2 linked regions of the Homo sapiens genome follow. The protein of the gene in region 1 interacts with the protein of each later gene in a biochemical or structural test. Each region holds a gene or a part of one and is shown in the gene's direction. Other genes may lie near its edges.

Region 1 (7,461 bases):
GAGGCTGAAAGGTTAAGTCAGTTGCCCAGTTACTGGCTAATACATGAAAAATGCTAGAACTGGGACCCAGTTGTCCCAAATCCAAACTCCATGCTCTCACTGCTTCCTGATTTACACACACTGTCAACAATACACAGTTTTCTCAAGAAGAGATACGTGGATCAGCTTTCCTTACTACCACAGTCAAGAACTACTCGGCTGGGCAGGAGGATCGCTTGAGCCCAGGAGTTCAAGACCAGCCTGGGCAATGTAGTGAGACCCCTGTCTCTATTTAAGAAAAAACCAACAAAGAATTACTAAAACTTTCTCTTCTCTTTCTTTTTTTTACATTCACTTCCTTGGTCCCTTGTTCTGAGTCAAATCCTCTCTGCCCTGATACACAGCACTCCTTGAACTGCTTTCTAAACAAGACCATGCCACTAGGTCGACTTGCCCCCTTCCAGATCACCACATACAATGTGTTAATTACTAGACTTGATCTTAGCCAAAAGGCTGAGAAGCGATACAATGTATTAATTAATCTTTCAACGGTCTCATATGACTGTGAGAAGTGATACAATGTGTTAATCTTTCAACTGTCTCATATGACTGTTGACTTTCTCATATGTCTATCTCACTTTACAGATGAGAAAACCAAGGCTCTTCTTACCTCTGAGCTTCATCTTGTCCCTATTCTTTCCTATTATTAGTCCAAGGATGCTAAAGATGATACCCATGGCCAATGCTAATTTGACAGGGTGTGGCTTTGCCTTGGAAACTAAAAGTAACCAAATTTGTCTCAACCATTTTGAGACAAATGCCTATACTCCTCCCTCTACCTAGATAACACCATTCATGTCCATTCCTTGCCTGGCTAATTCCTATTCATTTTCCAGGTCTCAGCTTAGATGTCACTTCCCCCAAGAAGCCTTCTCTGGATTCCACTTTCTTGTCTAGGCTGGGTAAACTCCTCATGTGCTTTCTTCCCTTCCTTTCCCTCCTCTCCCCTCCCTTCCTTTCCTTTACTTTCCCTTCTTTCTCCCTCTCCTTCCTTCCTTTTTTTTCTTTCAAGACAGGGTCTCACTCTGTTACCCAAGCTGGAGTGCAGTCGCAGGATCACAGCACTGGAGCCTTGACCTCCTGGATCAAGTGTTCCTCCCACCTCAGCCTCCTGAGTAGCTGGGACTACAGGTGCACATCCCCATGTCTGGCTAATTTTTGTATTTTTTGTAGAGATGGGATTTCGCCTTGTTGCCCAAGACTGGTCTCAAATTTCTGGGTTCAAGCAATCCTCTCACCTTGACCTCCCAAAGCTCTGGGATTACAGGCATGAGCCACTGGGCCTAGCTCTTACATGCTCTTAAAGTTTCTTGGCTTGAAATTGCAGCACGCTAAGCAATAAGGAAACAAAAATTAAAAAGCAAAACTTCCAGGAGCGCCCTATAAAGCTTAAGAATAAAAGAATGAAAAAATAATGTATGTTATTTACTGGCTGGAGTAGTTAGGACAGGCAGAGCCCTAATGGAAAAAGGATATAAAGGATGGTATAGGATATTCATCCTATACCTTGACAGAGGACAAACGCTGGAAGCAAGGAAATGTTTATAAGAAACACTCGTGCTCTTCACGGATGCTTTCGGTATTCCATTAAAGCTTAGAAACTTAGTTTTGAGAGATACCAAAAATCATGTGGTGCAATTCACATCCAATGCTGGAACTATATTACTCTTAAATTTGTCCGGGTCAATGTAAGTATTATAAGCTTTGTTAATTCAACAGACATTCATTAAACAACTCTTATGTTCAAGGGAACTGATGACACAAAGTTGAAAAAGTATAAGGTGTCAGCCCTTAAGGAACTTGTCAGGTAGCCAGGTAGTAGAGAATAAATGGTCATTTATTTATCCACTTAGCAAACATTTATTTCATGCTCTATGCACCAACACAGTATCTTGAAAGACTGGTATTATTGTCATCTCTATTTTATAGATGAGGAAATTGGGTCTCAGAAAGGTTAAGTAATTTCTGAGCTTGCGCAATTATGGTGTCTGGCACATTCTAAGCATCTTTTATCCATTAGCTTATTTACTCTGCATAATCACCACCCGTGAGGTAGCTACTTTTGTTAGCTTCATTTACATATACGGAAATGTCATTCTGAAAGGGTAACTGACCCTACTAATAAATGGCAGAACCAGGATTACCTCCAGACAACCTGGTTCCAGCATCTATGCTCTCAACCACCATGTTCTATTGACATATTGTTAAGCCAGTCAGAGTCAAGTCAGTGTGTGAGGGTCATGTAATGAAGAACAATGCAAACAATAAATGGTCAATATAACTTGTGTCAGTTCTTTCAGTTTCTTTGATTTTTCTCTTCACTCCTTATTGTCCAGTTAACTCCATTACCAAAAATAAATTGCAGAGAAGGAAAATGGCACAATGATGTGGGGGTGATTTTGGCAACAGGTTGGGAAAATATTGCTTTGAGTGGGGGCTTCTACCCTCAGTTAACTGCAGGCTTCTAACTCTCTGAAACGTGCACATTTTAGTGTGGATGAGCTTCTTTGCATCTTTCTGGGAGAAGTTCTACAGCTTTCTTAGATTTCCCTGTGACCCATAAAAGGCTTTTAAAAAAAAAAGACCAATTATTAGCCTACTGAAAGCCAATGGAACATTAGGCACGTCAATATTTTATTATAAAAAAATCTATAAATGCTATGGAGGCATTAAAATATTTAGAACAACCCTGTGGTGACACAGAAAATGTTGATGTGATAATGCCAATAACAATTTGAAAGTGTTATGTTCACTTTCTCAACTCTGATTACCTCCTCAATCCATGCATATTTCACTTCCTTTCTTCCAACTAGACTGTACTTAGCAAGGTCACCAGTGACCTTCACCTTGTCAGATCCAGCAACCACTTCTCTATCCTCGAATTTGCAGTATAGTTGGCCACCAGCTCTGCTTCCATGCCATAACTAGTCTGTTTCTACCTTACTGGCTCTCTTTCCCAGTCGCAAATGCCTCACACTTGAGGTATTTAGGTGTATTTAAGTCACGTCTGCAGCCCAGACTGCTACAGTGAGCTCTGTACAACAATATATCCAATTGTCTACTTAACATCACTCCTTGACTAAAATGTAAGCATCTCAGACCAAGTATTTCCAGTCTGGGCATGGTGGCTCACCCCTGTAATCCCAGCACTTTGGGAGGCCAAGCCAAGAGGACTGCTTGAGTCCAGAAGTTTGATACCAGCCTGGGCAATATAGCAAGATCCCATCTCTACAAATAATAATAATAATAATAATAATAATAATAATAATAATAAAAGAGCTGGGTGTGGTGGTGCATGCCTGTAGCCCTAGCTACTTGGGAGGCTGAGGTGGGAGGCTCACTTTAGCCCAGGAATTGAAGGCTGTGAATATTTTCAAATAATTAATTAATACTATTATTGCCTTTCTCGTTTGGCTCCCAGAACAGTACCTGGTCCACAGAGGACTCTCAAGAAATAGTTGCTGAATGAATGAATGAATGTAAAATGGGGTAAATAATTATATTTTTAAATTATTTTTTAAAATTGTACATATATGTATATATAACTGTACAATTTAACAACATGCTATGTGTAGACATTAAAGTGATGGGAAAAACACCAAACATTAACAGCGGTTGTGCATGAAATTAAAAGATTTTTCTTAAAACTCCTTCTCTATTTTTCAATTTTATTTACAGCGTAGTGGTTAAGAATACCAAAATTTAGAGTCTGAGTGAAGACTGCCAGTTACCAGCTGCACAACCTTGGTTTCCTCTTGTGTCAAATTGGCTTAAAAATATACACAGTACCGGCCAGGCGCGGTGGCTCACACCTGTAATCCCAGCACTTTGGAAAACCGAGGCGGGCGGATTGCCTGAGCTCAGGAGTTCGCGACCAGCCTGGGCAACAAGGTGAAACCCCGTCTCTACTAAAATACAAAAGAATTAGCCGGGCGTGGCGGCGGGTGCCTGTAGTCCCAGCTACTTTGGACGCTGAGGCAGGAGAACTGCTTGAACCCGGGAGGCGGAGATTGTAGTGAGCCGAGATCGCGCCACTGCCCTCCAGCCTGGGAGACAGAGTGAGACTCCGTCTCAAAAAAAAAAAAAAAAAAGTATATATCTATATATAGATATATAGATAGACGCAGTACCTCCTTTGTATTAACATCCCTAATAAGCTTTACTGTGAAATTATGGATGAAAGGATCTTTGCACGATGCAGGTACGTAGTGAGGGACAGTAATGTTAGTTGATAACGATTACAGGTATGTTTTATTTTATAATGAAAATACATTTGTCTTCTAAACCTTTACCGAAGGGAGTGAAAAGAACACCTCACCCAAACGCCCGCCCTTATGTGCGCAGCCCCGCCTCCTGTAGGCCCCACCCCACCAAAGGGTGCGCCTGCGCCGTTCTTTTTTCCGTCCACGTGACCCACTCAGGCTCCTCCTTGTCTCCAACATGGCGGCGCCCAGGGGCTCAAGCCGCACGTGAGAAAGTCTGGGCATCTGGGAATCGGAGAGTATAGCCTGTGAGCCGCTTTCCCCTCCTTACTGTCGGTTGCATCCCTTCGACACTCCCGAGGCCGTCGCGGGCCACTGGCCCTCTGCAGCCATGAAGACAAAGCCCGTTTCCCACAAGACCGAGAACACCTACCGGGTGAGCGCGGGAGCTTAGGCAGGGAGCCGCGGGTCTCCGCTGCCTCAGTCGTGAGACAGGCTCTGAGCGAGACTCCAGGGGCCTCAGACTTCTGGGCCGAGTGTGTCACTTTCCTGGAGGCTCCGGCGAAAGAGGGAGACACTGGATGTAGTAAACATGGGTTGGAGGAGGAAAGAAGTGTGGACAGCAAGTTTCACCCATGTTTTATGGGGTCTGGCCAGTCCTGGGAATTTCCTGTAGTCCAGAATTAAATTCACTATTCCAGGAGATTGCTTAGGACCAATTCTCCCCTGCTCTTTTATCTTTAAAGACCGAATTGGGCGAGTCGGCTGGCGGTGAGTGATTCCCAGCTAAGGGCAAATATACAGCGCTTTCTCTGTTTGCCCCTTGATAGATTGTTTCCAGGTCTTCCTTAGGATACAATCATAGGTCTGTATATGTTTAAAAACACTTTTATTGCAGCGACTTTGCTAGGTCCCCATGCTTATGGGAGGGTATGAAACCTAATAGATCTAGCGAGACTAATTGCCAGCATCCACCTAGGCTCACCAGTCTGGCAATGGAAATTTTATTTGAAATGACATAGCTGAGAGAAATTATGCAAACATAGAAGTATTCATTATCTTTGAACAGTGATGCAGTAAATTTGTTTACGGCCGTATGTTTTTCAGTTTATTTTTCCACTTATCCTTTGTGATTAGAGATGCCTACATGCAGCATTCAAATAGATATTAAAGATCTGATAAATTTTAATTAATTATGTATCTTAAATATACTTTCCCTTCCAGTTTCTTACATTTGCTGAACGACTGGGGAATGTTAATATTGATATTATTCACCGGATTGATAGAACTGCAAGCTATGAGGAGGTAAGAGAATGTGATACTAGTCAATCTTCAAGTGTTCATGGTGTTTTAGTTTCTTCTGTTAGTAGAAGTGAATTGTTTTTCAAGGTATTCCTTTTTGGACATGAAATGCTTTAGACCTGTGCTGTTTCATACAGTAGCCACATATGACAAATTGGATTTAAAGTAAATTAAAAATTTGGGTGCCCAAATGTGGCTAGTTGCTAACATATTGAATAAATATAGAATTGGAACATTTTCATCTTTGCAGAAAGTTCTGTTGGGTGAAGCTCTATTAGACAATTGACTTGACTTTCAGCTGTCTTTGTGATTCTAGCCTCTCCCTTTCCCTTATGCATTCCAAGCACTGCTGCAGATCCATATTCCTGAAGCTATAACTTTAAAGTGATTTTGAGGAAGCCCTTTTCCCGGGGCTTAATTTTCTCCTTTATAAAAATAAAGGGGCTAGACTACATAATATTTTCCAGTTTTAACCATACTCTGACTCTGTCATCCCTTTATTTTACTTTTATTTATTTATTCATTTTTTTGAGATGGAGTCTCGCTCCGTCTCCAGGTTGGAGTGCAGTGGCGTGATCTTGGCTCACTGCAATCTCCACCTCCCAGGTTTAAGCGATTCTCCTGCCTCAGCCTCCCGAGTAGCTGGGATTACAGGTACGTGCCACCACACCCAGCTAATTTTTGCATTTTTAGTAGAGACGGGGTTTTGACATGTTGGCCAGGATGGTCTCAATCTCCTGACCTCGTGATCTGCTCGCCTTGGCCTCCGAAAGTGCTGGGATTACAGGTGTGAGCCACCACGCCCGGCCTTGTCATCCTTTTATGCAGAAGTCTTTTTCTGCATCATGTCGTTATTCCTCCTAGCATTTTAAGGTCGTACGTAACATGCCTATACCTTGGCGATCCAATCTCAGTTCGTAATATTCTTCTTTACTATAATCAGACTCCACTCGCTGGGTCTTTGAATGCATTATCTCCACTGTGTAAATTCAATGTGTTAAATGATGTCGTCTAGGTGAGCACATTGTGCTTTGAGAACTCATAGTAAAGGGAACCTAACCTACATTCTTTAGGGGTGTCAAAAAAACGGTGATCTAGACGAGGTGACACCTGAATTTTGTTTATATAGGTTTTAGCATGGTAAAGAGGACAGGAAAGCCTGTTCCAGGCTGAGGGAGAAGCCTATATAAAGGAACAGAAGCTAGAGAATGCATGTCACATTCAAGAAACTGCAAAGCAGTCCAGTGTGGTTATAGGTGTGTATAGGGTGTTTTTTTTTTGTATTCATGGTGACTGGGATGGGGCAAGGGGGCAACTGGTGAGATAAAGCTGGAGAAATAGGCAAGGATCATAAAGGACTTCATATGTGAAGCTAAGTTGGGGTTTTATCCTGAAGCTGTAGGGACTTAGAGTTCTAGGACTGTAAGCAGGGGAATGAATGACATGATCAGGTTTAAATTTTCAATCTCTCTGGCTTTAGTGTGGAGAAAAGAGCAGGACTGCAGTTCTTCATCATGTCATGATTCCTCTGCTAGCCTTTTAAGGTCCTGTGTAACATGCCTTTAACTTGGAGATCCAATCTCAGTTGTCCAGTTGTGAGGATTTGACTGTTATCTAAGTAAGAAATGATTATGGTAGCAGCAATCAAGATAGAGAGAAGAGAAAGATTCCAGAGATGTTGAGGAAGTAGAATGAATGGATAGGACTTGTGACCTACTGGGTTTGCAGCAAGGAAGATAATGAGGTTAAGGCTGAATGGTTGAGGATGTTACTCATCAAGATATATTTATAGGTAAAGGAGCACAAGGTTGTAAAGATAAGATAATTAGTTCCATTTGGGGCTTGAATTTGAAATACCTTTGGCCATCCAAATGATAGTGTCCAAAAGATGTTTGTATATATGGATCTGGAGTATAGG
Region 2 (6,635 bases), on another chromosome or scaffold:
GAACACTGGCTGCCATTTCATCACAGTCAACCTGGACTCACAGAATTTCAAGTAATTTCAAGTAATTCTTGTATTTTAGTTTCCCTTGTAGGGCACAAATTGGTGCTAGCAAATGACTTACTTCTGAATCTGTCTCACCCCCTGGTTAATTGCTGGTTACCCCTTTTGGGCTCACCTGTGTGTAGGTGGCCAGGCTCACCTTTTGTTTCTTTTTCTTTCTTTCTTTTTTTTTTTTTTTTTTTTGAGATGGAGTCTCATTCTGTCGCCCAGACTGGAGTGCAGTGGCATGATCTCAGCTCACTGCAAACTCTACCTCCTGGGTTCGAGCAATTCTCCTGCCTCAGCCTCCCAAGTAGCTGGGATTACAGGCATGCGCCACCATGCCCGGCTAATTTTTGTGTTTTTTTAGTAGAGATGGAGTTTCACTATATTGGTCAGGCTGATCTTGAGCTCCTGACCTCAGGTGATCCACCCGCCTCGGCCTTCCAAAGTGCTGGATTACAGGCGTGAGCCACCACACCTGGCCACAGCCTCACGTTTTTGTGAAAAGATGGTGGCATGTAAATACCCAATTATGTGCTTGTCAGGAAGGAAGCGCCTGGTTAACCGGAGAAAGCTCCTGGTAAAGAAGAATCCATAACAGAGGCAAAACATACTGGCCAGTTTTCGCCCACTGCTGAGGTCCTGAGGGCAGCCACAGCCTCTGAGCCAAGGGGAGTTCAGTGTCCATAAGCCTTGGAGGCTTGCTTGCACAAGAACCGCTTTGCACTGCAATTTTGGGGTAGGCAGGTGGGTATCAGAGCAATGTGTTAAGAATGAATAGCTGCGCAGTATCCCTGGTATTGTTCTAAGTGACTGCCATCCACCTGAGCTTCCTCCCTGCAGTGGCAATCCCCAGGCCATTCGTGAGCAGGTCTTCAAAGTGTCCCAAGCTCAGCCCAGCACTTGTGCTGAGGCAGCCACCTTTGGTCTGAAATCTGGCAGCGCAGGATGAGAAGGGGGACATCACTGTGTTCAGGGTGACTTCTGTGCTAGTTAGCTAAGAATAACAATGCAGTCCCATGCGACCACCTGGCAAATTTACATTTGACATTTAACATAGAGAGGGTTTAGTAAAAGCAGCCCTTCAAGATGTTTGGGGAAATAATTTCTGAGTGGCTCACATCATACAACTTTCCGTTCCAGGAGCTTGTCGGTTGGGTCAAGAATGAACCTACGCATGACGGCGTGCTGATCCTGGGTTTCTAGTCATCCTTTTTAAGCTGCAAAGAAGCATTTGCAGACGTTGTCTCATGGGTACCGCTTGCCAACTTTGGAGGTAAATAAAACCTCTCCCCTCTTACAGAGAAGGTGGAAGCCCGGAGTGAGAAGGGAAGAGCGGGGAGGTGATGACCGTGCGTGCCCCGGGCGGCACCGTGGAGGGTGGTTGGAAACATTTTCTTACTGAATCTTCCCAGCAGCCCCGGGCTGGAGCAGGTAAATTGTTCCTTTCCCAGCTGAGGAATCCGAGGCCCCAGGAGCATGAGTAAGTCGTGCAAGGACACCCAGCTAGCTGGACGTTGGGCTCCACCCAACTCTCTCCACTCTGTGAGCCCGACATGCTGTTCCTCTGGGGCCTCGCTTGGTGTTGGCAGCTATCGCTGTTTGTAGCTGCATCATGCCCATGTGCTTTCTTTCCGCCCAGGATGTGAAGCCGGTAGAGAAATAAAGCATCGCCCCTCTGCGCGCCCCTCCCCGTCTGCTAGAATGTTTCTCATGAACGCTTCTCCAGTGGTTGCTCTCCAGTCCAAATGGGAGGCCTTTGGCCCGCCAGGGAGCTGTAGGTTCCCCAGGTGCTTCTCGGAGGCTGACGAGGGCGTGGAGAGCGCGTCGGTGAGCGCCCGGGTGCAGATGCTTATCAGCACTCTGCAGCGCGACGGGGCTGCTCGGGGCACCAGCGATGAGCGCGCCGCACAGAGGGGCCACAGGGCAGAGGGATGCCACGACGCCAGGCCGGCTGCCAAGCCCACCGTGCACAAGGAGCCACCCGCGTTGGCTGTCTGTGGTCTCGTTGCTGACTTTGACCCCATGGGGGAGGAGGAAACTACAGACTTTGGCCCGTTGGTGCTAGATTCAGACAGTGATGATTCCGTGGACAGGGACATTGAGGAGGCCATCCAGGAGTACCTGAAGGCAAAGAGTGGAGCCGCACAGCCCGGGGCCGGCGGGGCCCAGCCAGGTGCAGCCCAGCCTTCCAGGGCCGCAGGCGGAGGCAGTAGATGTAAGCCGGAACCGGCTCACGGCAGTGCCCCGACTGCCCTGTGTCCCCCAAAACTTGTACCTGGATCAGGTGGTGGCCCCGGCAGCCAGGTGGGATCCAGCAAGGACCAGGGCTCCGCCTCCCCGGTCAGTGTGAGCAGCGATGACTCCTTCGAGCAGAGCATCAGGGCGGAAATAGAACAGTTTCTGAATGAGAAGAGACAGCATGAGACCCAAAAATGTGATGGGTCAGTGGAGAAGAAACCAGACACAAATGAAAATTCCGCCAAGTCACTCTTGAAATCCCACCAAGAGCCGCCTACAAAGGTGGTGCATCGGCAGGGCCTGCTGGGCGTCCAGAAGGAGTTTGCCTTCCGCAAACCTCCCCGGTTAGCGAAGATGAACGTCCAGCCCAGAAGCCTCAGGTCCAAGGTCACAACCACGCAGGAGAACGAGGGCAGCACGAAGCCGGCAACCCCCTGCCGCCCTTCAGAAGCAGCACAGAATAAAGGTGGGATCAAAAGGAGCGCCAGCGCTGCAAGGAGGGGAAAGCGAGTCATGAGTGCGGCACAGGCGTCCGAGGCGTCCGACTCCAGCAGCGACGATGGCATTGAGGAGGCCATCCAGCTGTACCAGCTGCAGAAAACACGCAAGGAGGCCGACGGGGACCTGCCCCAGAGGGTCCAACTCCGAGAGGAGAGAGCGCCTGACCCTCCCGCACACAGCACAAGCAGTGCCACAAAAAGTGCCTTGCCCGAGACCCACAGGAAAACACCCAGCAAGAAGAAGCTAGTGGCCACCAAGACCATGGACCCTGGTCCAGGGGGCCTGGACACTGACCATGCCCCCAAGCTCCTGAAGGAAACCAAAGCTCCACCTCCAGCGAGCCCTGCTTCCAGGAGTGAGTTTGTGGAACGGTCCTCGTGCCGGGCGGACACATCTGCTGAGCTGATGTGTGCAGAAGCAATCCTGGACATCTCCAAGACGATCCTGCCGGCCCCTGTAGAGGGCAGTGACGGGTCCCTGTCCGCAAGCCCACTCTTCTACTCCCCGAACGTGCCTTCCCGCTCTGACGGCGACAGTAGCTCCGTGGACAGCGATGACAGCATCGAGCAGGAAATCCGGACATTTTTGGCCCTAAAGGCGCAGTCAGGGAGTTTGCTGGCCAGAGGTGAGAGCTGCCCGCAGGCTGCCCAGGGTCCACTTTTGCCGCCTGGCCTCAACAGCCAGACCGGCGGCCACAAGACCCCTCTCTCTAAAACACCAGACCCACTGCTGGGCTGCAAAAGGAAGCGTAGAGGTGGTGGCCATGTGAGGCCATCCACGCCCAAGAAAATGCAGGAGGTGGTGAAAGACGGTAGCCAGGATGCCGACCACAGCCAGGGGAGAGCTGAGCCCGGCCATGAGAGGCGAGACCTGCCCATCCAGGGCAAAGCCAGTGAGGCCCTGGGAGGGGAGGGCACCGCCAGGGGCCCTGGCGACACTCGCATGTCACAGGGCCAGGGTAAGACAGACGAGGCAAGGCGCCTAGACGAGAAAGAGAGCTCTGAAGACAAAAGCAGCTCCCTGGACAGTGACGAGGACCTGGACACAGCCATCAAGGACTTGTTAAGGTCCAAGCGAAAGCTCAAGAAGAGGTGCAGGGAGCCCAGGGCTGCGTGCAGGAAGAAGGTCAGGTTCAGCACAGCCCAGACGCACTTCTTGGAGCAGCTGGGCGGGCTCCGGAGAGACTGGAAAGACAGGGGCCCGCCAGTGCTGAAGAGCTGCCTCTCCAAGTCCAAGAGAGACAGTGGCGAGGGTCCTGGGAAGAAACCCCCCAGTGTCTTTGGCAGCACGGCAGAGAGGATGAGGCAGGAGGGTGCCGCGAGCCAGGACGCGGCCCTGGCCTTCCGGGTGAGGAGACCCGCCTCCGCCTCTGCCTCCGAAGGGAATCCATTCCCCAGGGAGTCCCAGGGCCCAGCTCCCAGCCCCGGCTCCCTGTCTGATGACAGCAGTTCAGTGGACAGCAACGACAGCATCGAACTGGAGATTAGGAAGTTTTTGGCGGAAAAGGCCAAGGAGTCAGTGAGCAGTTCAGAAGTTCAGGCAGAGGGCCCCACCGCTCTTGGGACAGGGGGCCCAGCCAGGCCAGAGGTGCTGTGCAGGAAGGAGCCTGCCCCACCGCCTGGCGTGTGCACACGCAGCCAGAGGGCCAGGGGGGTCCCACATCTGGCCGAAGGGCTTCGAGGCACAGAGAGCGCAGGAGCACAGGGCACAGCTGGTCTGTTCAGCCAGGGCGGGAAGGGGCTCCCTGCTGCTCCTGCCCGAGGGGATCCGGTGCCGCCCAGGAGCACCAGCGGCGGTGTCTCCGCCAAGGGGCTCTCAGTGAGCAGGAGAAATGTTTACGTTCACAAAGACCAGAGCCCACGAGGGGCTGAGCCTGCTGCCAAAAGTGCTTTTGGTCAGCTGCCCAGCTGTGCCACAGCGGGCACCGAGGCAGGAGGCGCCAGAGGAACCTTTCACATGGGCTGCGGGAGCCCGAGCTTCCTGACCCCCAGCCCGGGAGCGGAGAGGGACGCTGGAGCCCAGGCCGACCGCACACCGCCCTGGAGCGACTTCGCCCACCAGAGTCGGCTGCCCAGCCCGTGGGTGCTGCGCTCCGAAGGCAGAGATGCAGTGTGGAGGGGGGGCGTCGGGAGCGAGAGAGACAAGGGGTCCGAGGGCCCCGCCCGGGGCCTGCCCAGCCTGCCCCTTGCGGGCTTCTCGCCGCTGCTGTCCACCCAGCTCTTCCACTTTGGAAAGGGTGTCTCCTGGGGGGGCAGGCAGGCTGGCCTCTTCAGCCCCCACCTGGGGCTGCCTCTGCAGGGCCCCTCCTTCTCGGCCTTCAGGGAGGCCCAGGCCGGACCCAGCCCTGTCTTTGGAAGCCCACACTTGCTGGCAAAGAAGGACGGCGGCCCCTGGCCAACCAGGAAGGCACAGGCAGGGCTGAGTTTGCATGACAGGAGGAGCTCGGGCTCGGAGGAAAGCATTTTAGACCTGAGGTATCGACGAAGGGTCAACAGGGATGACCAGGAGCAGGACGCCTTGGGCAGTGACGCCAGTGACTTCAGCGACACCTCCACGGAGGACAGTGGCGGCAGCTCAGTAGTGAAGGTCTAAGCCCTCGAGCTGTGGGTTCGCGTCCTGGGTTGCGTGCATTCGTGGAAAGCGGCGTAGCCGTGCGTGTGTGTGATGGTTCCGTGGCTGCAAGGAAGGGAAACAGTCTATTATACATAGCCCTGTATATATGTACACCAACATGAAACTTTTATTTAACAGACGTGTCCTGGTAAATATGATTTTTGTAGCTTTTTGTAAATTATTTAAAGTGATGTAAAAGATATTTTTGGAAAATACTGTTGTTCAATTTTGTAGGGTGTTCCTAACTGCAGTTTTCTGTGTTCTGCATACAAGTCTTAGCTTAGGAAACATTTGGTTCTTACCATCACAGCCAGGTTCACAGAGGCTCTGATGCTTTTTGGTTGATTGCTGGTGAGAATGGCCGGCGGTGGCTGCAGTGGTAGCCTGAGGAAGGCCAAGCTGCCCTCCCTGGGAATCACTCAGATGCCCCAAGATGTCCGTTGGGAAGCTCCCAGGACAGCACTTTTTATACAGAGGACACCGCCTCGGCCCCACGTCCTTAGAGGCCAGAGCACATCTGAAAACTGCAATCACAGCCGTCCGCTGGAAAAACGTTTCGAAGCACAGTGGCCAGCGAGCGAGCACGTGGCTACTCCCTGTTGCATGTCAAATCCACACAGATGTCAGCGGCAGCTGCTCGGCAGCCCAGCCCTGGGCCTGGGTGGGTTCATGTCCAATCTTGTTCGATCACTAGATGATTCTAACATCGAAATAAACCTCTTTTTATATGGCGTTACTGTTCTTTTTAAATCATGGTTCTTAAAGATAACACACGTGCACTTAAAATGTCCTTTTCTCTGGCCGGGCGCGGTGACTCACACCTGTAATCCCAGAACTTTGGGAGGCTGAGGCGGGCGGATCACCTGAGGTCAGGAGTTCGAGACCAGCCTGGCCAACATGGCAAAACCTCGTCTCTACTAAAACTACAAAAATTAGCCAGGCATGGTGGCGGATGCCTGTAATCCCAGCTACTCAGGAGACTGAGGAAGGAGAATCACTTGAACCCAAGAGGCGGAGGTGGCAGTGAGCTGAGATCGTGCCATTGCACTCCAGCCTGGGTGACAAGAGTGAAACTCCATCTCAAAAAACAAAACAAAACAAATTTCTTTTCTTGCACACACCAATAAGCACTGCTTTGAACTTTGGTCCCCAGACACCCAGGGCAGAGATGACGTGCAAAACCCAGTCCTGGGGATAAGCGTTCTCCATACCTGCCCTCCAGAAACAGGAGCCCCGTC

What was found. The genes of interacting proteins can lie anywhere in the genome.
Region 2: the proteins of UTP20 (region 1) and PPP1R26 form a complex in vitro, tested with the Homo sapiens proteins (one study listed by BioGRID).

What each region holds. Positions count from the first base shown.
Region 1 is NC_000012.12:101,275,651-101,283,111, forward strand, and holds the start of UTP20 (small subunit processome component 20 homolog), read left to right. Parts: upstream 1-4,454; 5' UTR 4,455-4,632; coding exon 4,633-4,677; intron 4,678-5,465; coding exon 5,466-5,546; intron 5,547-7,461. UniProt on the Homo sapiens protein: Part of the small subunit (SSU) processome, first precursor of the small eukaryotic ribosomal subunit.
Region 2 is NC_000009.12:135,482,765-135,489,399, forward strand, and holds the end of PPP1R26 (protein phosphatase 1 regulatory subunit 26), read left to right. Parts: 5' UTR 1-51; exon of another isoform or gene 52-61; intron 62-587; exon of another isoform or gene 588-789; intron 790-1,185; 5' UTR 1,186-1,318; exon of another isoform or gene 1,319-1,684; 5' UTR 1,685-1,746; coding exon 1,747-5,376; 3' UTR 5,377-6,128; downstream 6,129-6,635. UniProt on the Homo sapiens protein: Inhibits phosphatase activity of protein phosphatase 1 (PP1) complexes. May positively regulate cell proliferation.